Homo sapiens: one gene and its partners. The protein of the gene in region 6 purifies or fractionates together with the protein of the main gene of each other region. This does not show direct contact. Each region holds a gene or a part of one and is shown on either strand. Other genes may lie near its edges.

Region 1 (3,500 bases), on a different chromosome or scaffold from region 6:
AAAAATGCTAATGATCATCTGAGTCTTTAGAAAGTTGTCATCTTTTTGCTGATAGGGGGATCTTCCCTCAATATTAATGGCTGACTGATTAGGTTGGTGATTGCTAAACGTGGGGGTGGCTATGGCAATTTCTCTCTTTTTTTTTTTTTTTCTGAGACAGAGTCTCACTCTATCCCTCAGACTGGAGTGCAGTGGCACGATCTGGGCTCACTGCAATCTCCGCCTGCCGGATTGAAGCAATTCTCCTGCCTCAGTCTCCCGAGTAGCTGGGATTACAGGCGCCTGGCTCATTTTTGTATTTTTGGTAGAGATGGGGTTTCACCATGTTGGTCAGGCTGGTCTCAAACTCCTGACCTTAGGCAATCCGCCCACCTCGGCCTCCCAAAGTGCTGGGATTACAGCCGTGAGCCAACGCGCCCGGCCAGGCAATTTCTTAAAATAAGACAACCATGAAGTCTGCCACATTGATTGACCTTTTCACAAAAGATTTCTCTGTAGCATGTGATAGCATGTTACCAATGGCAGAACTTCTTTCAAAACTGGAGTCAATCCTTGCCAACTCTGCGGCTGCTTTATCAACTATGTTTATGGAATATTCTAAATCATTTGTTCTTATTTAAACAATGTTCACAGCATCTTCACCAAAAGTAGATTCCATCTCAAGAAACCACTTTCTCTGCTCATCCAGAAGAAACAATTCCTCATCCATTAAGTTTTATCATGTGTTTACAGCAATTCAGTCATAACTTCAACCTCCACTTCTAATTCTAGTTCTCTTATTTCTACCACATCTGCAGTTACTTCCTCTACTAAAGTCTTGAACCCCTCAAAGTCATCCAGGAGGGTTGGAATCAACTTCTTCCAAACTCCTGTTCATGTTGATATTTTGACCTCCTCCCACAAACTATGAATGTTCCTAATGGCATCTAGAATGCTGAATCCTTTCCAAAAGTTTTTCAATTGACTTTGCCCACATCTATCAGAGGAATCGTAATTTATGAAAGCTATAGTTTTATGAAATGTGTTTCTTAAATAGTAAGAGTTGAGAGTTGCAATTACTCCTTGATCCATGGGCTACAGAATGGATATTGTGTTAGCAGGCATGAAAATAACATTTATCTCCTTGTATATCTCCATCAGAGCTTTTGGGTGACCAAATGTATTGTCAATAAGCAGTATATTTTGAAAAGAATCTTTTTTTTTTCTCAGCAGTTCTCTACAGTGGACTTAAAATATTCAGTAAATCATGTTATAACAGATGTACTGTCATCCAGGCTTTCTAGTTCCATTTATTCAACATACGCAGAGTAGCATAATTCTTAAGTATTCTTGGATTTTCTGAATGGTAAATGGAAATTGGCTTCAACTTAAAATTACCAGCTGCATTAGCCGCTAGCAAGAGAGTCAGCCTGTCCTTTGAAGCCAGGCATTGACTTCTCTCTAGCTATGAAAGCTCTAGATGGCATCTTCTTCCAACAGAAGGCTGTTTCGTTTACATGGAAAATCTGTTTAGTGTAGCCACCTTCATCAATTATCTTAGCTAGATCTTCTGCATAACTTGCTGCATCTTCTCCATCAATCAGCACTTACTGCTTCACGCTGCACTTTTATGTTGTGGAGATGGTTTCTTTTCTTAAACATCACGAACCAACCTCTGCCAGCTTCCAACTTTTCTTCTGCAGCTTCCTCACTTCTCTCAGCCTTCGGAGAACTGAAGAGAGTGAGGGCCTTGCTCTTTGATTAGGTTTTGCCTTAAGGGAATATTGTGGCTGGTTCAATCTTCTATCCAGAGCACTAAAACTTTTTCCACATCATCAGTAAGGCTGTTTCACTTTCTTATTATTTGTCTGTTCACTAGAGTAGCACTTTTAATTTCCTTCAAGAACTTTTCCTCTGCATTCACAACTTGGCTAACTGCTTGGCACAAGAGGCATAACTCTTGGCCTATGTCAGCTTTCAACAGCCTTCCTCACTAAGCTTCATCATTTCTAGCTTTTGATTTAAAGTGAGAAATGTTGAACTTTCCTTTTCACTAGAATACTTAGAGGCCATTGTAGGGTTAACTGGCTTAATTTTAGTATTGTCCCATCTTAGGGTATAGGGATGCCCAAGGAGACGGAGAGAGATGGATAAGTAGCTGGTCAGTGGGGCAGTCAGAACAAACACAGCTTTTTTTATTATGTTTGCTGTCTTTTATGGATGTGGTTCATGGCACCCCAAAACAATTACAATAGTAACATCAAAGGTCACTGATCACAGATCATCATAACAGATATAATAATGAAAAAGTTTGAAGTATTGTGAGAATTACCAAAATGTGACACAATGACACGAAGTGAGCACACAATGTTGAAAAAATGGCACTGAAAGGCTTCCTTGAGACAGGGTTGCCATAGACTTTCAATTTGTAAAGAACTGATTATCTACAAAGCACAATAATAAAGCTCAATAAAATAAGGTATGCCTGTATTTCACTGGTTCATCTGTATCACTGATTTATAAAAGTATCTATCCAGACACACTCTTTGTGCAGTACTGAGGACAAAAACCTTTTCATTTGCAGGATGTTTGGTATTATAAGAAGTCAGTTTCCAGCACTAGCACATCTACACTAAGTTACTGTTCCTTCCCTAGACTCTTAGTTAGTGGGGCTGAATCAGTCATTTTGACTTAGAGTTTTAGAACTCAATTTCACATCTAATTCTATAGAATCTGGCATTAAAAAATCAAAATTTCCCTAACTCCCCAAAATAGAAATTATGAGATGGTGAAAAAACAAAAGCCATTAGGTCTTGCTAAGATCTGGTGACAAAGTACTTCAGTTAGACTCAAAAGACCTACATTTTCATCAGTTTTCCCACTCAGAGTGTGTCCTTACTACACAAAACTGTGCTCTGGCCTAAAACAATATAGATTCAAATTTCTAAGGAAAATCATCTCCAATTAAAATCACATATAACTCCTCACTTCTATATTGAAGTCAAGAGATTATGTTGTATTTTAAAGATCCCCTATAGCCCAGGCACGGTGGCTCACATCTGTAATCCCAGCACTTTGGGAGGCTGAGGCGGGTGGATCACCTGAGGTCAGGAGTTTGAGACCAGCCCGGCCAACACGGCAAAATCCCGTCTCTACTAAAAATACAAAAATTAGGTGGGCATGGTGGTGTGCACCTGTAATCCCAGCTACTCGGGAGGCTGAGGCAAGAGAATTGCTTGAACCCAGGAGGCAGAGGTTTCAGAGAGCCAAGATTGCACCACTGCACTCCAGCCTGGGTGACGTCTCCAAAAAAACAAAAAAAAAAAGTTCCCCTACAGATATGAGATTATGGGTACATTTTTCTTTGATTTCCATAATGATTATTGCGTAACCATAACAATATTAAACTTTTAAAAAATCCTCCCATTTCAGCAGGAGACAACTTTGGGAAATAACAGAAATATTCTATAACCTGATTTGGTGGTAGTCACACAAGTATATACATTTGTTAAAATTTATCC
Region 2 (3,500 bases), on a different chromosome or scaffold from region 6:
TAATTAGGATAGAGCAGAGTTTCAATGAACAATCTGGAAAATCCAGAGAGGCTTCCAGAGTGGTGAAGGGCACTGGTTTCCAATCCACACCTCTGGGCTACTTTAAAAATACAGGCTCCCAGACCAGCCCTAGACAGAACGATGTAGGATCTCAGTAGGAAAGACGCATTTTTAAAAGAGCTCATGGGATGGTTTGGGGGAACCACTGGTATAGTTGGAACAAAATTTTGCAATCAGATCTAGGTTTGAATCTTGGCTCTGCTCCTTGCTAGGCCTATAACCTTGAGCTAGTTACTTAACCTCCCTGAGTCTGTTACCTCATCTGTAAAATGGCATCCCATTTTTCTGCAGCAGAACTACAGGGATTAAATGAGCTCACAGGCAAAAAATTCTATCACAGTTTCTGGCACAATATGTGATCAATGGCTATTTGCTGGTCCACAGCCCACACACACTCTGAGCATGCAAACAACCCACGGAAAGGCTCAAGAGGAAGGCGTGAAAATGTGTTGCGATCTACAGCTGCCCAGCCCAGCCCAGGGGTACTGAGTGTAGAGACAGCTTCTCAAGCAGGGGCCAGGCAACCTCTGCTATTGCCCAGCAGAGCAGTGCAGCCAGATTCCACTGCCTTATCCACTGAACAGATATACTGCTCCCAGCTTTTTCTGTGTGACAGAGTCTTGAAATACATAGTGCAGAGTAGTAAACTAAGAAACAATCTGCTGTCTCCCACAGAGCTCACAGAGACCATGACACCCAATAGGTGCCAAGTATACTGTTTGTTGATTGCAAAAGCTCTCTGAGAAAGAAATGGGCTGCCCTAGAACACAGAGTACCTGAGCCCCTATCAAATAGAGACTGGATGAGCACATAGCAGTGACTCCGGGGACATTCAAAGTCCAGCCCTGGGCCTGGATTAGAAGGCACCCGAGATCTCCTTTGGGCATGTGATTCTGTAATTCATTAAGTATACTAATGGGAAAACAAAGCTGCCTATGTTTTCTGCTGGAATATAGGGGTAGGTCAGGGGTCCAAGAAAGCACCACCAAAAACTTAAGGAAAGTGACACTCTTTCCAGAGCCTTCACAGAGGAAGCAGGGCTGGGCAGGGCACTGGCTTACTGGCGTTCTGTCCTGACAGCTTCAGTTCCAGCTCTTGCACCTGCTTGACCAGCAGGGAGATGTGCTGGAGCATGTCCTTGTTCTGCAGCAAAAGCTGATGCACGCGAGCCTGGGCCTCCAGCCGCGCCGCAGCCTCAGCAGCCAACTGGTCCTTCAGCAAGTGTACCTGCAGAGAAGAGGCAGCGGCAGAGAAGACAGGACAGAGAGAAGAGAGGGACATGAATGCACATGAGAGTCACTGGCAGATGGCCGGGACCAGAGATGCCCTCCACATTCAGTTCAAGAAGAAGCCCTTCACGGGCAGCATGGGCATCTGGGCTTATCATTCCAGAGGAGGAGCCAAAAGGAGTGGGTTCACTGGCACTGCGAAGCTGTGTGTCCTAAGGGAGGGCCATGATGCATCACTAAGGTACCCATACCAAGGGCAAGAGGCAGGAAAGAGCCATCGACCCTCTAGACCTGCCACACACACACACGTACACACACACGTGCACATATACACACACACACGCACGGTGCTCCATCCCTGCTTAGAGAACTCCTTCAGCACCTAGCATGGCATGCCATGTTGGAGGTGGAAGGGGGCACTCTCTTCTCATCCTGTCTTCTAAAAAACAAAACCAAAACTCATCTATTGACCCACTGGCTAAGAACAGTGTCACAACGAAGCCCATATAATCTTTCTCCCTCTCCCACTCACCCAAACATAGTGAGAAATAGGAAGCACTACACATGGCTTTTTAAATTAGTGAGGCAGCTGTCATCAAGCCACTCTGTAGGCGACAGCTTCTTTCCCTGTCTTCCTTTTTTATTTGCTATGGCAGACATCTAGGACCATGATTCATACCACATATTACCAGGACCACCTGGTAGGGGTCAAACATTTGCTGACTGATTCATGAGAGGGCCTCCTCCAACCAGCCCAGAAGGGCTGAGGTGAACAATTTGTGGCACCCTCATCAGTTTCCAACCTTCTTAAGGCAGAGCAGTTGGCAGCAATGCATTCAGCATGCTTGAGGCCCAGTGGTGTCAACAGCTCTGTTCTTGGTGAGCAATACTTATGTGGAGATAAAACTCAGTGGGAGGAGACAGGGGCAACCAGACCAGGACCCTGGTTTGAAGAAACTGAGTTAGAAGGCCAATACCAGTGTTCACACATATGTGATTCTTGTGCAAAGAAGTGAATAAAGAGTTCTCCAGGGAGCATTTCAGAAGGCCCCTGAAGAAAGGGAACTAATGAATTTTTATGGCCTGGACCAATGTAGCTTATGGGGAAAAGGGTGTTCTTGTACCAAAACCATGGTGTGGGTAAAGACAGAGCCAGGTGAGTGGGGGCAGGAGAGGTGGGACGAGGATGCAGGAAGATGGATGGGGAGTCAAAAGCATTAGCTGATTCCCTTGCTCAGAAAACAAGTGCTCAAATTTCTGAAGAGGAGTTTGCTCCAAAGAGATTCACATTTTTTTAGGGAGTAAAGGGCAGTGCTACCTCACAGTTGGCCACCCTTGGCCAAGTGACTTGCTGGCCCAGGGTGTGCCCCTCCCAGCAACCAGCACTCAGAGAATTACACTTGTGGATACCGTGGCTGCCTCCCTCTTGCCCAGATTGGAGGCCCTGACCTTGCCGTTGACCCTATTTCTGATTGAGTGGAGCCACAGGGGCATAATGCCTAAGGAATTTAAACTAAATCTGTCCTCCATAAAGCTGCTAAGGACAGAACTGATATTTTGGTCAAGAAGTCAGACTCATTTTTTTGTCTCATATTAATTGAGAGAAGATCTGGGGAGGGGTGAGAACAGGTGTGATACAGTGAAATACATGTTTGGTCTTCATCCCTGTTTCCTGACATATAGCTCCCCAAACCCTTGAGATCTCCAGAGTGGTAAGAGTGTTTTTTGTATGCTTATTAGATGATTAGTGGTTGGGGAACCCCTGGAAGCTTCGGGATGGGGGCTGCTCACAGGACAGACCAAGGTATGATTAGAGGATAGGATTTTTCAGTCCCACGCCCCAACCTCCAGGAGATGAGGGGCTAAAAGTTAAACTAATCACCAGTGGCCAATGATGTAATCAATCATGCCTACATAATAAAGCCTCCATTAAAAACTCAAAAGGACTGGGTGTGGGGAGCTGCCGGGCAGCTGAACATTTAGAGGTTCCTGGAGGGTGGTGCACGTTGGGAGGGCATGGGAGCTCTGCCACCCTTCCCACAGACCCTGCCCTATGCATCTCTTCCATCTGGTGTTCATTGGTATCCCTTATAATATCCTTTAAAATAAACCAGTAAATGTAGGTGTTTTCCTGAGTTCTGTCAGTTGCTCTAGCAAATCAGTTGAGTCCAAGGAGAGGGTAGTGGGAACACCAATTTATAGCCACTTGGT
Region 3 (3,500 bases), on a different chromosome or scaffold from region 6:
ATTAAGTACAGGTAAAACCATCAGATTCTATAACCTATTTTAATAACTCTGAGATCTTATTAGTCATAACCTGATGAGGTACAAACTCCCGTTAAATTATGTGTATATTTTAAAAACTAAACTTAGCAAGAACTTTAAGGAGAATTAAATTTGTGAAAAACAAACTTTTATAATCTTATTACCATAATACTATTATTATTATTTCTCTATATATTTATTTTCCATCTTCATCCTTAAAACAATCCTCTGTCCTGGAGTTGTATTATTAATCTTTGTTTAATAAATATTGATATTTTAAAATTCAATTAATTTTTCCATTTTCTGAAAACTCTTCAAGTAGTGGACCCTCACAATATCTAGCAGTAGTATAACATTTAAATTGGCTTCAAAGTCCTTTTTTTATATTAAATTTTTATATTCTTTATATTAAAACTTGTGTATGATGTGGCCTCTTTGTTTCCACCTAATGCTTCATATGGCCAAAATATTAATCAAACAAAATAAGTTTTTGGCATTGGCATCAACTTAAAAATCTGGTTAAACAACACAAGCATATAAAGATTTGAAGAAAGCAAAACCATTAGTTACCTGAACCTTCCAATTCTTCTTAGATGTGAAAACATTTCACCCCCAGGGACATATTCCATAACCATGTATAAATTAGAATTATCCTATGAACAAATAAAAAGGAAATACAATTATTCAACTTAGGTCAAAATTATTTTAATATTATATAATGCTGAATTAGAAAAATTTAAAATCTCTCTGACAGATTAATAACCTTGAGAAATAAAGAATAAATGGAACATGCTCTAGCTTTTCTATACAGAGACACTCATATTTTTCCCCTCCTAGTTATTTTTGCCACAAACTAGTCTGGGACTTTTGCTCTTCCTTTTCTTGCAGAGAACATCTAGTTCTCAAACAATTAAATACTCAGGCAATGAAGTAACGTTATAATATATGCAAAAGAATAACAAAGGTAAAAAACAATTTAAAAAGTTAATAAGAATATTTACATTTTATGTATAAAAGATTAATGGTTTTAATATTTTAAATACATAGGTCTTCATTTAATTTAAAGAATAAAGGAGAAAAAAGATTAAAATGTTTCATATGATTCAATATTGCAGAGAGATGCCAGTATCATTCCAAAGAGCTCAAAAGTGACCAATTTAAATAATAAATGTGGTACAATTTTTCAGACATTTGAATAGTGGAACAAAAATTTTGCTTTGTATAAGTGAAAAGACTAGAACTCAAATTACTAAGTAAAAGAAGATGAGATAGTGGCAAAAAGGGCTTAATCAAAGTAGAAAATGTGTTGGGTGTATGAATTTGCATAAGAATTGTTATTAAGATATCCCTATGGTTTTTGATAAATTGAAATATTTCTTTTTGTAATACCATCTCATGAGTATCACCTTTGAACAATTTCCCCAGGGAGAATCAAAACCTTTTCAAACGTTACCTAAGTTATAAGCACAATAGGATTTAATTACACAAACTCTAGAGGTATTCGTTTTGTTTATTCATATTCTTCAGGCTTATCATCTGGTTTAGAATCCATTTATAGTTTCATCTTAAAAAAAATTTAGGTTGAAAATATCTTATTTAGATATTACTAAAATTTACCTTAAAAGCATACTCCAGTCGAACAAGGAAAGGAAAATTCACTGCCTGTAATATTCTTTTCTCATTCAAAGTATGCTCTATTTGCTTCAGTTTAACAACCTGTAATTGAGAGATAAATATCTCTTAATGTATTTAAGCAAAATTAAAAAGTTATCATTTAAAAAAATGTTTTCCATATAGTAATAAACTTGGATAAGCAAAATTGTTAGAATTGGATAAGGAAGATAATAACAATTACCAACTTTTAGGTTGGTGCATAAGTAATTGCGGTTTTTGCCATTACTTTTAATAATAGGATTCAAATGAAAACCTAATAGAGGATTTAAAACTTGGTCTTAGGAAGGTCAATTATGGTTTCAATTAAGAAGTGAGAGCTAAGTAGGAATAAGAAACAAACTCATAAGAAATTACTTTAAAAATTAGTTATGTCAATTATGCTTAAATAAATATATAATTACTTAAGGTAATTTAAAAATGAATGTGAAAATACTAAGGTCCTAATGACTTAAAGTCCTCTATAAAAGCTGGCTCAAATCTCTGCAATAAGTAGATAGTGATTTTAAATACTTCAGAAGATGAATAAGAAAATTAAAAATGAAGAGAAAGTCCATAACTGAAAAATAGTGAGTAAAAATGAACAATTTTCATTTTATAATATCTAAATAAATATAGGTATAAATTCTAAAAATTTATTTTATATTGCCATAGAAGAGGACACACAAAATATTGGGGAAAAAACTATCTTTATAACAAAAACTATCTTTGTATCCTAGGTCATTTAGACTTAAGCTTCCTCTAGATTTTCTATTTAATAGAAGGGGAAAGTAATTTATCTTGACTTCACGAAGACTGTGATTCTATTCCATATGTGATTCTATTTTGAATTTAAGAAGTGGTGACTTTAGCAAGACATATAAATAATTTTCTTGTATATGTGTAAATCATTAGAAGGTGGCATTCTTTCTTGCTGGAGTCTAATGGTCAATGTGAGGATAGTCACAGAAGTCAAGAAGTTAAATATAAATAACAAAAGTAATTAAAGATACCAGCCAGGTATTAATATATAAAATTAGGAGTATACTGATAATATTGAGCAAATAAATTGAGTAGGAGTCAGATTTGTGTTTTAATCTAGGCCTTTTATTTAACTAACTTTCTGACTTGAGATGATTTCAAATCTTTGGGCCTCAGGTTTTCAAAATTTGTAACATGAAGTGGTTGGATCACTACTGTACACATTTTAACTTCTGTAATAGTTACAAAACAAATTAGTCCATAATTGTCACAATAAATTATAGTTGTCCATCAGTATCCCTGGGGGTTGGTTCCAGGACCTACAGCAGAAACCAAAATGCCCAGGTGCTCAAGTCCCTTATATAAAATGACAGAGGCTTTGCATAAAGCCTATACACACTGTCCATATACTTTAAATCATCTCTAGATTACTTATAATACCTGATATATTGTAAATGCTATGTAAATAGTTGTTACACTGTATTGTTTAGGGAATAATAACAAGAAACAAAAGTCTGTACATGTTAGGTATAGATGTAATTTTTTTCCCAAATATCTTCAATCTGTGATTGGTTAAATCCATGGACGTGGAACCCATAGATATGGAAGGGCTGACTGTATACTAACTATGTATAATATAGTTACAATAAAAATTTAGTTACAATAAAAATTAAATTTAATAATAAAATTATTTGAAGCTGTCAATGGTAAGTCATTATACTGAATCTGTTTAATAGTCTAGCTGATAAAACTAAAGTTTACCCTGAAGGTAAATAACAACAAATACACTCACCTTCTGCTTATCTAAGATCTTCATGGCATAATACTGTTCAGTGGCTTTGTGTTTTACC
Region 4 (3,500 bases), on a different chromosome or scaffold from region 6:
CATTTTCTCTGCCACCATTTCCTTTGTTTTCTTTCTTTTTTTTTTTGAGATGGAGTTTTGCTCTTGTTGCCCAGGCTGGAGTGCAATGGGGCGATCTCGGCTCACTGCAACCTCCGCTTCCTGGGTTCAAGCAAGTCTCCTGCCTCAGCCTCCCGAGTAACTGGGATTGCAGGCATGTGCCACCATGCCCAGCTAACTTTGTGTTTTTAATAGAGATGGGTTTTCTCTATGTTGGTCAGGCTGGTCTTGAACTCCCGACTTCAAGTGATCCACCTGTCTCAGCTTCCCAAAGTGCTGGGATTGGAGGTGTGAGCCACCACGCCTGGCTCTCTGCCACCATTTTCAAGAGTATTGCCATCTGCCTGAGCAAACCTGGTTCATCACCACCTCTTTGCAAGAGAAAAAGGAAGTCGGGAGAATTGTGTGTAATTTTTTTTTTTTTGAGATGAAGTCTCGCTCTTGTCCCCCAGGCTGTAGTACGATGGCCCGATCTTGGCTCACTGCAACCCCTGCCTCCTGGGTGAAAGCAGTTCTCCTGCCTTGGCCCCCTGAGTAGCTGGGATTATAGGTGCCTGCCACCACGCCCGGCTAATTTTTGTATTTTTAGTAGAGATGGGGTTTCACCATGTTGGCCAGGCTGGCCTAGAACACCTGACCTCAGGTGATCCACCCACCTCGGTCGGCTGTGTGTATTTTAAGGCAAAGATTCACAACCAAAAACAAGGCTTTATTAACTTTTGTATCTAAGAACCTGCAGTGTCGAGCCCTCTTTTATTCCTAGTATTACTACTTTAGGTGTGAACTTTTTATCTTTATTTTACTGATTCCTCTAGAAGTTTATGCATTTTCTTGACTGCTTTAAAGACAATCTATATTGTATCATTTTTCAAGCCCGTAGAAATGTGTAAGGCCTATAATTTGAACACTTGTTATTTTTAAGGTTATGAGCATGTAATATACCATTGATACATGGAAGAATATGTATAAATACCACTAGATAGGTTATATTGAAGAGATAATATCTAAATTTTTGTCCAGAGTTGATGGGGTGCAGTTTTGTAGGTGTGTTTCTCAATACATTGTGTCCATGTTTTAAAGCATATAGAAATTTGAATACTGTTTAACCTCATATAGTCCTTGTTTATAGGTTTAATATTTCTAAAGACTAAAGACGTCACAGCTCCCTTTAAGATTCAGTAATACTAATAAAATTTGAGATATACAGGGTTAGAGTCCAACAAATTCAAAGGAAAATTGTTGAATTATATAGCCGTAGAGCAGGAATGAAACCCAGGTTCTAAGTTCCAAGGGGGCCATGAGCTACCATACAGGTGCATCAGTGACTGGGCATAGAGTTGGCAAAATTATTTAAGAGAGTGAGCTGTGGATCCTAATTATGTGAACATGAATTTTTGAACTGCATGGTGCCTCAGTTTATCCATCATTACAGTGGGGACAGTAGTAAGTTTTTCTTTTTCTGCTCAGTTGTCTGAATTATTACCCCAGTCTCTCTTGTTGCCACTCTTGATGCCCACATGAGAGGATCTAAGGTAATTTCTGACAACCTGGGACTCCTTAAGGAAAAACAGAAGGTTCCACAAACCCCATTTTAGGAGAAACCTCTGTTTTCCTCATGGAACCCCAAGAACTTTAAGCAGACAGGTCCCTCTCAAAAATCTAAGGCTCTCCTCTGTTTTGCCTTGCGTTGTCTGACCTTTTTGGTTTGGATGGGCATCAGAAATTAGTAGGGGAGAGAGATCTAAAGAAAATTGTGGATATGAAGATGTATTTATTATAAGAAATGTTATGAAGGAAAGAAATGTTATATGAGAGAGGATCTTATATGGCAAATTGTTGTCCTAAAGTAGAATGACTAATTACAAAAGAGGGAAATACAGGACAGGTCAGATAAATTTAATCATGTCGTAGATAGTCTGTGGAAGTTGTGTTATGGTTCATAAAGTGGGAAAGAAAAACTGAACAACTGCTAGATCTTTTCTTGTCTAGAAGTGTTGTGTATGTGATGTATATATAATGGCTCGGCTTAAAAGAAAATGAAAGCTCTTAAATATTTTGTAAGAAAAATAGAAGCTCTAATGCCTTTTATTTCATGTGACTTCAGTAATCTTTGGGAAATAAAGATGGTGTTAAAGTCAGTGGTAAAATAAAAATATCTTCAAAATTTATCCATTTGGTCTAATTTAAGTCAGAGGTTAAGTTTTAGAAGTGCTTTAATGTCATAAATTGATGCTTTGACTTTGGAAAATAGTTTTGTTTACCTGGTTTGGAGCCGTTAGATTTCTAGGTAAGGTCTCCGGACAGGTGGAGTTAGCCATGTCTCCTAGCTATGCTGGAAGGAGTCAGATTTTATCTGCAGTTCTGTCTTGTATCCTAGACTCTGCACCTGGTATGCAATTAAAACTTACTGCTGCTGCTAATCTCTGGGTTCCATTTAAAATCCTTCCATCACATGAATACTATCCCCTGTACTAAATTTTTCCACAATTAAATACTTAGAATCATTTTTGCTGACTTGACCCAACCATTAGTGATATATTTTAAAAATGCTTATAATGTGTCACAATATATTTAGCAAATGTAGGGAATGACATTTTTACTTTCTTCAGCATTTACATAGCATTTATGTAGCAATGCTATCTCAAGTATTTTTAATCATTTAAACGTTAGATAATAGATATGTTTTTGATTCCTTTTTTCTATGTAAATAAATATAATTATGAGATATTTAGTAAATAGTATCAATTGCATATGTCACTTACAGAATATACAATGCAATTAGGATTATTTTTATACACTACATCATATTTACTTGTTGGCTTTACAATAACTTAGAAATAGTATTCTGGATTAACTGTGTGACTCATGAGAGAGGGAGTTTGTGCAATTATAGTCTTTACAAATTTTTACTAGATTTTTCAAGACTTACGCTAGAACTTTGAGAACAAGGTAATAAATAAGCATATCTGTTAATATCACCTTTGGTCAACTCTTGGCTAGACCCAATGATAATGTAGGAATTAACATAATTTTTCTACTAAAGGTGTTGGATTTGTTCCGAGAGACCACAGTTCAAAGTCATTGACAAAGAAAGTTTAAAAATTGTTAGATTAAAACCTTTTAGTGTGTTTGAAATTGTTTTGTAGAAAAATATCCTGGTTTGCATTGATAGGTTTTTTTTTAAATAACAACTAGACCAAGAGAAAGGGAGAGTAGTGATAAATGTCCATGTTTTCGAGTTGAAAAGTAACAATCAGTGTATTACAACAGATGGATTTGATGTCAAATTACAAATGCTGAGAACGTTATATGTAACTGACTTGCCAGAGTAATTATACAAGGCAAAGAAAGGAAAGGCATCTAAATAGGAAGGGAAGGGGTGAGATTGTCTGTGTTTTAGACTCCACAAAAAACCCATTACAGCTGATAAACACTATATTCAATAAAGTTGAGAGTTACAAAATTAACATTGGTTTCCATAC
Region 5 (3,500 bases), on a different chromosome or scaffold from region 6:
CTGTAGGCACCATGGTCCGACTTCTGCCGCAACACTCTGATTTTCCTGCCATTGCAGGGTGATGGCCTCTCTCTGATAAAACTGATTCTACCAATCAAAGGGGAGTTGCCTGCATAAGATGGGCCGGGCAGAGCTAGCGGACCCTGGGGGGGCCGTGGCTGAGGATGAGCAGTAGGGGCAGAAGGCGCAGAGGCACCCACAGCAGCATGGCTGCCCAGACGAGTTGCAATGCCATTAGCGATACGAGGGGTTCGGGGTAGAGAGACAGGAGAAGCAGCAGCAGTGACTGGGGTAAAGGCAGAAGAATGGGAGGCAGCAGTCATGGGCAGGTCAGCCTCTTTTGTCAGCACGGTTGCTGTTTCTCCAAGCCCTTTAGAAATAAGATGGTTTCGTATCAACAAAAGCAGCTCTTTCTCAGGGAAGGAGATCCTTGACTGGGCAACAACATCTGCTTTCTGCAGTCGTGCTAGGGAAACATCAGTGCCAATGAGAAGTGGTTTTCCTGACACCCGTTCAATGAGTTCAGCAGCATACTTGCAGAACTTGACATGGTCACTGCGCTTGTCCTGCAGCACAGGCTCCTTCATCAGCTGCTGGATCTGGCAGCTGCTGAAAAGGGGCAGTTTACTGATGATCTGCCGGACAGTGCTACTGCGAGACAGGCCCACTAGGGCTTTGCAGGCCAGGGCCCGGATTTGGTCTGCATCTGTGATGGGCATCTTAATGGACAGTAAGGACAGGAGCACCTTGATGCCGTTGTTGGACTGAACCACATTCCACATCTTGGCCAGGGTGTGCTCACTGCTTTTAGGGTTCTGAGGCAGCTTTCTCCGAGGAGTACCAGAGATAAATTTACCAATACTGGATATTCGGTTATCTGGGCCACACACACAATTGATGATAATCTGAAGTGCTGACTTCTGAATTTCAGCATCATGGATGAAGAACTCACCCTCAGCCACTCCCAAAATAATGCTGATACCTAATGGGAAAAAAAATTATGTATTATTCACCATAAAACTAATGGCCAACTTCAATAGTTGTTCCAGAGTCAAAATTTGGTGTTCTACTCACTTTTACTTTAAAAAACTATATTACTTTTGTAAAAACTGCAAGGGTTTGTATAAAGTGCAGACAGTTCTACTACAATGTATTTTTATGGTATCTCATATGCAGTTATTAAATAGGGAAATCATGTCATAATTATGGAAAAGTAATCAAGGTTCATGTGCAATTTTTTCTGGTTTTATTATTTTTTTGAGGCAGAGTCTCGCTCTGTCGCCCAAGCTGGAGTGCAGTGGCGTGATCTTGGCTCACTGCAACCTCCGCCTCCCGAGTTCAAGTGATTCTCCTGCCTCATCCCTGCAAAGAGCTGGGATTACAGGCGCCTGTCACCACGCCCAGCTAATTTTTGTATTTTTAGTAGAGGTGGGGTTTCACCATGTTGGCCAGTCTGGTCTGGAACTCCTGACCTCAGGTGATCCACCCGCCTCGGCCTCCCAAAGTTTTGGGATTACAGGTGTGAGCCACTGTGCTCGACCTTTTCTGGTTTATTAATTTTAATACACTAAAACCTTAGGAACGGAGAAAGCCCTCGGTTGGGCTGCTACTGTGGAAGCAGAACCCTTTCCACTCTATTTTAAGAAAATTAAAAACCAAGTGCCTGTGTCTTAGTCCTATCCTGCATCTTGTCCCATCACACGACTTCCCATGCTCACCCCAGCAGTGCCCTGATCAGCCTTGCTCTTAATAAAGTATATTATCAAAGTATATTTTCCTTTTTTTATATATGTATGACGGTTTCTACCCATTTTGAGCTACCTGCCAATTACTGACTCAGGTTACAAAACTGCTTACTTTGTTGTTTTTTTTTCCCTTTAACTCCTGGAAAGCTGTGATGCTTAAGTTTTTTACTATCTGCCTCAACCCATTTTTCCCATGAACTTTATTTTTAGTGCAAGACTCTTCAGAGTGTGAGCTTTTCAGGAAAGCTATAATATACCATTATAGCAGAAATGCCAGTACCACTCAGAAAACCTGAGTTTACTAGCATGACTCCCTTACATCAAACTATCTGGTCCTACATTTGTATTTTTGTTTTTTGGTTTTTTTTTTTAAATTAGTTCCTGATCTGCTGAATGGTACTCCTTATAAAGGACAGACAAGGAGCCCCCCTCTACTACTTCTGTTCTAAAATCCAAAATTAGGTCAGGTAAGTAACCAAGACCAGAGTGGCAAAGAAAAAACAAATCCAGACCAAGAAACAACAAAAATGGCAAAGTACAACCTACCTACAGTAGAGACTGTAGATCCAGCCTCATCCAACACGTCCACTGATTCTGCCAACTGGAGCTGGATTTTTGGCACCACAGTAAGAATAGCCAGGACATCCAAAGCAAAGCGCACAGTGTCATTCCTGGACAGGAAGAATTAGTCAAAGGGAAATTAGAGTATAGCCACAAGAATCAAGAGAGACAGAGAGAGAGACACACAGACAGATAGACACATACACACAGAGACAATAAATCAGAAGCACTACCAGTGTGGCTCTATCTCAAGCTGTCGCATCAAGAGAGGATTTTATAGTCACCATGACATTACTTCCAAAAAATATAGCAATGGAATTTTTACCTATTAAACTTCTATGATAAAAAACATAGAATAATCCTGAATCCTTTCATCCTAGTGAAAACATATAGAGACACGTACTCTCAAAGTTTTGGTGAGAGTAGAAATTAGTACACTCTTTCCAGAAAGTAATCTGGAGGCCAGGCACGGTGGCTCAAGCCTATAATCCCAACACTTTAGGAGGCCAAGGTGGGAGGATCACTTGAACCCAGGAGTTTGAGACCAGAATGGGCAACATGGTTTTATCTTTTTCTATAAAAAAAAAATATAAGATATTAGCCGGGTGTGGTAGCACGTGCCTGTAGTCCCAGCTTCTCAGGAGGCTGAGGTGGGAGGATCACCTATGCCCAGGAAGTTGAGGCTGTGGTGAGCCGTGATTACACCACTGCACTCCAGTCTGGGCAACAGAGTGAGAGCCTGTCTCGAAAAACAAAAAAAAAGAAAAATGAAAAAAAAGAAGAAAAAGAAAGTAATCTGGAAATATGAAACAAGATTCTTAAAATGTTCATAAACCTTGTCCTAGAAATTTCACCTCTGACAATCTGTCCTAAAGAAATAATCAGGCCAGGGCCAGGCGTGGTCTCATGCCTGTAATCCTAGTGCTTTGGGAGGCTGAGGCGGGCAGATTGCCTGAGCTCAGGAGTTCAAGACTAGCCTGGGCAACATGGCCAAACCCTGTCACTACTAAAATAAAAATTAAAAAAATAAATTACCCAGGCTTAGTGGCGGGCGCCTGTAGTCCCAGCTACTCGGGAGGTTGAGGCAGGAGAATTGCTTGAACCCAGGAGGCGGAAGTTGCAGTGAGCTGAGATTGAGCCACCGCACTCCAGCTCGGGCCACAGAGAGAGACTCTGTCTCCACAAAAAAAAAAA
Region 6 (3,288 bases):
TTTTTTAAATCCCTGTTGGGTTAAGGGTAAAGGAGGTTAAGGAAGCCTATTTCAAATAATGGTAACAGTTTCTGAGAAGTTAAAAAACGCCACTAGGGAGTTGCTAGGGAGCCTTGGCCTGTTTGGGGCATTGAAACAAATGTGGGTGCTTTTAGGGATTATCTCCGTCATCTGTTAAATGAGAAATGGGTTGGACTGGTGATTGATAGTTGAAATCTGTCAACTACTTGTATCAGGTTAGACTACCTGATACACAAAGAAGGGTTGGCCAAGGCGAATTTCTTTGCAATTGATTAATACTTTTTTAAAAAATGAAGTACCAAAGCTGGTATACTATGAGACTTACCTGTAGTCCCTTGAAGTATGGTAGACTTTTTAGTCAATCTACAACCATCTACTCCCCTTTTAAGAAAATCTTCTAAACCCAAGGCATTTTCTTCCAAAAAGATGTTGACTGGTAGTATCTTGAATACTTTAAAAAAACAGACACACCAAAAAACTCCCAAGAAATGGCCTTTTACAAAATGTCAAAGGTTCTTCATACCAACTGCTGGTCATTGGCTGGGGTTTTGAACACTGTATGACAATACTTAAACTACAAAATTTTTTTTACAAATACAGTTTCATCAAAACTTGGGACATACATCAACTTCATTTCTTTTCAGTACCTTAAAAAAAAAACATCAGTTCTGGGACATAACAAAGAAATACTAGGAGAAATGGTATCTGGACAGGAACAGAAATGTCCACAACTGCGAGGGATTTTCTTTTACACTGGCCACAGAGCGTTTATTGACACCACCACTCCTGAAAATTGGGATTTCTTATTAGGTTCCCCTAAAAGTTCCCATGTTGATTACATGTAAATAGTCACATATATACAATGAAGGCAGTTTCTTCAGAGGCAACCAGGGTTTATAGTGCTAGGTAAATGTCATCTCTTTTGTGCTACTGACTCATTGTCAAACGTCTCTGCACTGTTTTCAGCCTCTCCACGTTGCCTCTGTCCTGCTTCTTAGTTCCTTCTTTGTGACAAACCAAAAGAATAAGAGGATTTAGAACAGGACTGCTTTTCCCCTATGATTTAAAAATTCCAATGACTTTCGCCCTTGGGAGAAATTTCCAAGGAAATCTCTCTCGCTCGCTCTCTCCGTTTTCCTTTGTGAGCTTCTGGGGGAGGGTTAGTGGTGACTTTTTGATACGAAAAAATGCATTTTGTGCAGCTGGTGAGGTATAATCCAAAGCAAAAGCAGGGGCAAAAATGGACTTCCTGAAGTTATCTCTGCTCCTGCTGGTTATCCTCCAGAATCTGTCATGTTGACTGAGAGTGCGTGCTTGCTTTCTCAGGCCTCCTGGCCAATACCACAGGTCTGCTGGAAATCACCCACATGGTTTTTCATTGCCTGTGCAGTCAGGTGATGCCTCTATGTTTTTGGAGGTCCACCTCTGTTGTTTCTTAACCTTCCCAGCCTTCCCACAGTTGTCCCCTAAAGAACAAAACAAACTCATCTTAGCACTTAGCTATCATGGTCTTTATCATGACTTCCTAATCGGTCCTATAGCTGAGGAAGCTTTGCTTCAAGGCTGCTGAGAATGAATATTTCTAGGTTACTTAGAACGGGATTGCCACCACCTAGTCACCTCAATTTTTTGTTTACTTATACACCCAATGCCTGGCAAGGATGGCATTTAAGGATCTGGACAGAATAGTGGCTAAGGAGATTGTGATATGTAAAGATTCTGTACCTTAATTCTAGAAGCACCGAAGAAAGGCTTAGGTGACCTGTTACTAATGTCCTATTAAAGCCACACAGGTTTATATGCATATAAAGGAAGAAATGAGTAGACCAGAGGTTGCAAGTGGCAGTTCACCAAGGGCGATAATTTGCCCACATGGTTAACTTAATGTCAAATTAGATGATAATGATAAAGAATTCTCACACATACTTGCATTTTTGGATTTGGTAGACGAATGAGAAAATCTGGCGAACCTCAGCCCATTCCTGCAGGGAGCAAACTGGCCTGCTCCCTTTAGAATAGAGGTGAACTTTACAGGTTGCCAGTCTCTTAGTCCCTGTCAGCCTCCAATGGCACTGGAGTGAGAGTTTGTAGCATGGGCTTTTTGGAAACCATTTAATGAGGCCATCCTACTACTGATGTTGTATATCAGTTAGCACTTTTGTAGCCACAGCCTTCAAGATGCCTAGCAATTTGTAATATTTAAATGCTTCTCAACCTCTAAGTAATAGCTCAAGTTTACCAAGCACAGATTATAGCGAGAACAGCAGTGTACTGGACAAGGCATTAATCTAAAACATGAAATGGATTCAAGTGTTTTCTTAGGGAAAGATGTGCATTAGTACTTCCCCCCCACCCTCATCATGAGAACAAACAAAGGGTGGTATGTAAGAAATGGCATGCAAATAGAATAGCATTGGCAAAATGAAGCGGTCAGAACCAGATTTCTATTTGTAAGCTGGTTCCTCAACTCACAGTGATTTGGAAGAAGGTCTCTTCATTTCTGGCCACTTTCGACGCTGAAACTGCCTAAGTTTTCAAGTGTCAAAGGAGAATGAATGTTAACCATCACCAAGAAAGAAAAAGTCCCCAAAGAACTATACAAAGAAGGTCTCCTAGGTGACACCTATCTTTGGTGGGTGATCCTGGTCTCGGGCAGACCAGAGGGAAGGGCAGTTTCTCAAGATAACAGGTGCAGACTCACAGAGATGAGACTGAAGGATGGGCCAAGATAGGAGAACTTTGTTTAGGCTTTAATAATAAAACGAAATACCTGTATTGCTCATAGCTTCCTCCATCTTTAAGTCCTAAATGAAGGAGAAATGAAAAACAAAACAGGAGCAGATAGTTTAGGCAAAACAACCCCAACACACCAGAAAACCATCTTATGCTTTTTTGTCACAATCCCATGATGCTGATAGTGTTCCCTACTCAGAGTAGACTGAATTATGAGGGGTAGACTGAATTATGAGGGGAACCTGCCCTAAGTCTCCTAGATAGCCTTGTAGATTGCCTAAAATCCAGTGTCACCATGATCAGTTTCAGGACCCTGATGGCTTCATTCAGCGCTGACCTTAGTTATGGTGAGGGAGGTAGATGCAGGCATGAACATCTGTGCTCCAGAGGACAGAAAGCCAAGAGCCCTGACCAAGTGCAGGAGGGAGTTCCCCTTTGGGCTCTGGGGAAGTTTTCCCGAGGATGTGGCAGGATCAAGTGCGTGGGCTCCGGGGTCAGCCCACCTTGTTCACCTTACTCCTCCATAAAATGAGG
Region 7 (3,500 bases), on a different chromosome or scaffold from region 6:
TCGAACTCCTGACCTCAGGTGATCCACCTGCCTCGGCCTCCCAGGGCTGTAATCCCACTGGGATTGTAAGCATGAGCCACCGCGCCCGACCAGCAATGCTTTTTTTTGAGACGGAGTTTTGCTCCAGTTGCACAGGCTAGAGGGCAGTGGCACCATCTTGACTCACTGCAACCTCTGCCTCCCAGGTTCAAGCGTTTCTCCTGCCTCAGCCTCCCAAGTAGCTGAGACTACAGGCGCACACCACCATGCCTGGCTAATTTTTATATTTTTAGTAGAGACGAGGTTTCACTATGTTGGCCAGGCTGGTCTTGAATTCCTGATCTCAGGTGATGTGATCCACCCTCCTCAGCCTCCCAAAGTGCTGGGATTACAGGCGTGAGCCACTGCGCCCAGCCAGCAATGCTCTTAAAGAGTTAGGCATTATCATTTTTCTCCTATGAAGGGGAATTTATGTTTCTATTCCTTTTACCTAACAGGCAGTTTTGAAAACACAACTCATGTCACATTCTGTGTATCACTTGATGTCATTTATTTCATGTGAATAATTAAGGAAATCTTGGCAAATAACTGTTCGCACAGTAGATGTTTCCTTCTATTTTCTTTAATCAGGGAAATCTGTGAGCCTGAACATGCTAACCACGCCTTTGCTTACCAGATTCAGACGATGTGAATGCCTCAAATAAACACCTTTAAAATAGGAAACAAGTCACGAAGACTCTTTGCTGGCTGAGGTAAGCATTTCCTTTGATTAACAAGTTGTGTAATACACACTGTGATGTCTTATAACCTCTCTAGAACTCTCTAGAGACACCAGGGTGTCAGTGGCCTCACGCCAGTGTCAGGATCTGTACTTTTGCATGTGTGTGTGGGTACACATGCAGGTATGCATGTGTGTAGAAGCAGCTACCCACTATGGGCTTGGTGCGGCCACCATATGGTCACTCCTGACTGGCATCCTACATGCACCACAGCACAACTGTCCAGAATGTTGGTGCTTGGTATGCCCCCAACTCTATTCCACTCACTCTAAGATGACCTCTCTCTTCTCAACAATGCAAGCATCCTCAAAGTTCTGCCCAATATTAGGCCTAAGGTGGTAATGAAAAAGTAAAGCCACCTAACTCTTTCGTGGTCAACAAGCTAATGAATTTACAGCTCATCTTGCGTAAGTACAGCGTTCATCCTTCCCACCTTACCCAAAGGCTTCTTCATCTCTAGTCACTGTGTCACAGTTTCCCCGATCATAGACCCTACTTTCCACCCTCCACCTCTACCACCCAAGTTCAGGTTCTTACTACTTCGCAGTTTTCTGGAACCCTCCTGCCAGAAAAACGTTCGTAATGATAACGCACAGCCCTGGCTGCATCTCTTCACTGTCAGTAAGACTTGTATGGGCCAGGTGCAGTGGCTCATGCCTGTAATCCCAACACTTTAGGAGGCCAAGGAAGACCGATCGCTTGAGCCCAGGGCTTTTGAAACCTGCCTGGGTAACATGGCGAAACCCCATCTCTACAGAAAAATACAAAAATTAGCCAGGCGTAGAGGCGTGCACCTGTAGTCCCAGCTACTTGGGAGGCTGAGGTGGGAGGATCACCCGAGCTCAGGAGGCAGTGAGCCGAGATCATGCCACTGTACTCCAACCTGGGCAACAAAGGAAGACCCTAACTCAAAAAAAAAAAAAAGAGAAGACAAAGACTTGGATGACTATGGTTAATCTTGAAATCCTCAGAGAAGTCCACAAGGCCCTCTCCTCCAAAGGCTTTTTCAAGATCTCTCCCCAGTTAGCCCTTCCTGCAGACCACAAAACCCGGCCTCCTTCCTAACACCTAAACCTGCAGCAACTCCCGTCCCTCATGTCTCTGCTCAGGGTCCTCCTTCCCGTAAGTTTTTCTCAACCCATCAAGATCCTGGCTGCCCCTACAAGTCCGTCTCGAATACTTCACCCATCCAAAGCCTCTGCTAACTCCTCCCCTGCCCGGAACCCCGCTTTCTGAGATGGCACCCTCCCTCCTCTGGTTCCTCCTGACCCTGGGCCTGATCGTCCTCTACTTTGAATTATAGGCAGGCTTTCACTCCCTGTACTGGACAAGCCTCTAAGACCACAGGACAAGATGGTGTCGCATCTATCCTTTCTCCCCTGGAGCTTCCCAGCACAGTGCTCAGTAAACATTTGCCAAACTGACCTGAAACAAAAAGGGAAATGTGCTGGACAGGCACTTTGCTTGTCTGAGTAATTCATAATACGGTGAGATGCCACCTCGTGTTCGGTCATCTCACCCACATGCTGAAGTTAAGGGAACGCACTCACCTCACAGAGACAATGGGAGCCCCAAAGAAAGGAGTCACAGGCAAAACCATGATAAAAAGGAGGCCTGTTGGTAGGTGGAGGATTTGCAGACTGCTGGAGGGGACACTCATTCAGAAACAACAGGCGAGAAAGAGTCTTCCCACCAGGTGCCTAAATCCAACCACAACCCTCTGGGCAGAGGCTGTGGGCTCCTGCCACAAAATACAACCCAGCCAGGACCCTGACACACCCAAACCAGACAGGAGAGAACTCTCCAAATCCACAACCACAGCCACACCACCTTGACCGAAAACCTTCCTTTCCTACAATGAGCTTTAAGGCTCTTAATATTAGATACAGTAAAGGCCTAGTCATTTGAAATGGTGCCTCAGTTCACAAAATATCCATGTAGTGAAAATTTTCTAAAGAAATAGTTTTATTACTTTGAGTCCTCCCTAATTAGAGGGGAAGAAACAAAGCTATTTCATTTCTCTCCTCTTTCTTCCTCTAAACCAAAGAGCAGCATTCATTCAGAATACTCCCCAGAGGGAATCATAACTTGAGCAAAAAGACTCCAGCACAGCAAAGGGAGGGATCCACCTGGGCGAGAAGTCCTGCCTCCCTGTCCCTCCAGGCAGGAGGCCAGGCCAGCGCTGAGGGGCTCAGGTCTGCTTAGCTGGCCAGTGGTACACTGGCTGTCTGAAATTGGTTTTGGCCAATTAAGGGATCCTTGAGGGAGTGAAAAAATAAAAACCTCAGTAAATGCAATTTTGCCACCCCAGGCTCGCTCTGCATACTGTGCCTGCTGTCTCTCCAGGCTCGCTCTGCAAAATGTGCCTGCTGTCTCTGAGCGCCTCCAAATGCTCCGTGTGGAAAATAAACTCACGCCCAGAGCAGGCGCACCAGATGAAGCCGAAGACAGGCAGGAACAGCAGGCTCCGATGGCGCTGCCTCTGAAAACCACTCTGGCTTCTGCACGACAGGGAAGGTTCAGAGAAACAAGGTGTCCCAACATCGCTGCTGCTGCTCGCTCTCCTCTGCTGTCCTGAGGATGGCCAGGGCTGGCAGTCTGGCCAAACCCCCAAGACAATGGCATCTCCTAGGCCACACTAAACTCGGCCTGTGTTCCTGCCACTCCCTGTTTCACCCCCTAAACAGGAAGCTCAACAGCAGCCACATCAGAAGAGGGCATTTGGTCCTTCTCTAGAAGGGC

Evidence for each region.
Region 1: the proteins of SULF2 (region 6) and UBR1 purify together in Homo sapiens (affinity purification with mass spectrometry; one large-scale study listed by BioGRID and IntAct). This does not show direct contact.
Region 2: the proteins of SULF2 (region 6) and NOS1AP purify together in Homo sapiens (affinity purification with mass spectrometry; one large-scale study listed by BioGRID and IntAct). This does not show direct contact.
Region 3: the proteins of SULF2 (region 6) and PRKACB purify together in Homo sapiens (affinity purification with mass spectrometry; one large-scale study listed by BioGRID and IntAct). This does not show direct contact.
Region 4: the proteins of SULF2 (region 6) and POTEE purify together in Homo sapiens (co-immunoprecipitation; one large-scale study listed by IntAct). This does not show direct contact.
Region 5: the proteins of SULF2 (region 6) and DCAF1 purify together in Homo sapiens (co-immunoprecipitation; 2 studies listed by BioGRID and IntAct, with this or other methods). This does not show direct contact.
Region 7: the proteins of SULF2 (region 6) and TXNDC11 purify together in Homo sapiens (affinity purification with mass spectrometry; one large-scale study listed by BioGRID and IntAct). This does not show direct contact.

The regions. Positions count from the first base shown.
Region 1 is NC_000015.10:43,096,039-43,099,538, forward strand, and holds part of UBR1 (E3 ubiquitin-protein ligase UBR1), read right to left. Parts: intron 1-3,500. UniProt on the Homo sapiens protein: E3 ubiquitin-protein ligase which is a component of the N-end rule pathway. Recognizes and binds proteins bearing specific N-terminal residues that are destabilizing according to the N-end rule, leading to their ubiquitination and subsequent degradation.
Region 2 is NC_000001.11:162,363,191-162,366,690, reverse strand, and holds part of NOS1AP (carboxyl-terminal PDZ ligand of neuronal nitric oxide synthase protein), read right to left. Parts: exon of another isoform or gene 1,342-3,500; coding exon of another isoform or gene 1,288-1,341; coding exon 1,122-1,287; intron 1-1,121. UniProt on the Homo sapiens protein: Adapter protein involved in neuronal nitric-oxide (NO) synthesis regulation via its association with nNOS/NOS1. The complex formed with NOS1 and synapsins is necessary for specific NO and synapsin functions at a presynaptic level.
Region 3 is NC_000001.11:84,182,271-84,185,770, reverse strand, and holds part of PRKACB (cAMP-dependent protein kinase catalytic subunit beta), read right to left. Parts: coding exon 3,443-3,500; intron 1,735-3,442; coding exon 1,636-1,734; intron 672-1,635; coding exon 589-671; intron 1-588. UniProt on the Homo sapiens protein: Mediates cAMP-dependent signaling triggered by receptor binding to GPCRs.
Region 4 is NC_000002.12:131,212,536-131,216,035, forward strand, and holds part of POTEE (POTE ankyrin domain family member E), read left to right. Parts: intron 1-3,500.
Region 5 is NC_000003.12:51,420,016-51,423,515, forward strand, and holds part of DCAF1 (DDB1- and CUL4-associated factor 1), read right to left. Parts: intron 2,417-3,500; coding exon 2,292-2,416; intron 983-2,291; coding exon 1-982. UniProt on the Homo sapiens protein: Acts both as a substrate recognition component of E3 ubiquitin-protein ligase complexes and as an atypical serine/threonine-protein kinase, playing key roles in various processes such as cell cycle, telomerase regulation and histone modification.
Region 6 is NC_000020.11:47,656,906-47,660,193, forward strand, and holds the end of SULF2 (extracellular sulfatase Sulf-2 isoform a precursor), read right to left. Parts: intron 2,826-3,288; coding exon 2,792-2,825; intron 2,548-2,791; coding exon 2,494-2,547; intron 1,488-2,493; coding exon 1,457-1,487; 3' UTR 501-1,456; downstream 1-500. UniProt on the Homo sapiens protein: Exhibits arylsulfatase activity and highly specific endoglucosamine-6-sulfatase activity. It can remove sulfate from the C-6 position of glucosamine within specific subregions of intact heparin.
Region 7 is NC_000016.10:11,694,358-11,697,857, forward strand, and holds part of TXNDC11 (thioredoxin domain-containing protein 11), read right to left. Parts: intron 1-3,500. UniProt on the Homo sapiens protein: May act as a redox regulator involved in DUOX proteins folding. The interaction with DUOX1 and DUOX2 suggest that it belongs to a multiprotein complex constituting the thyroid H(2)O(2) generating system.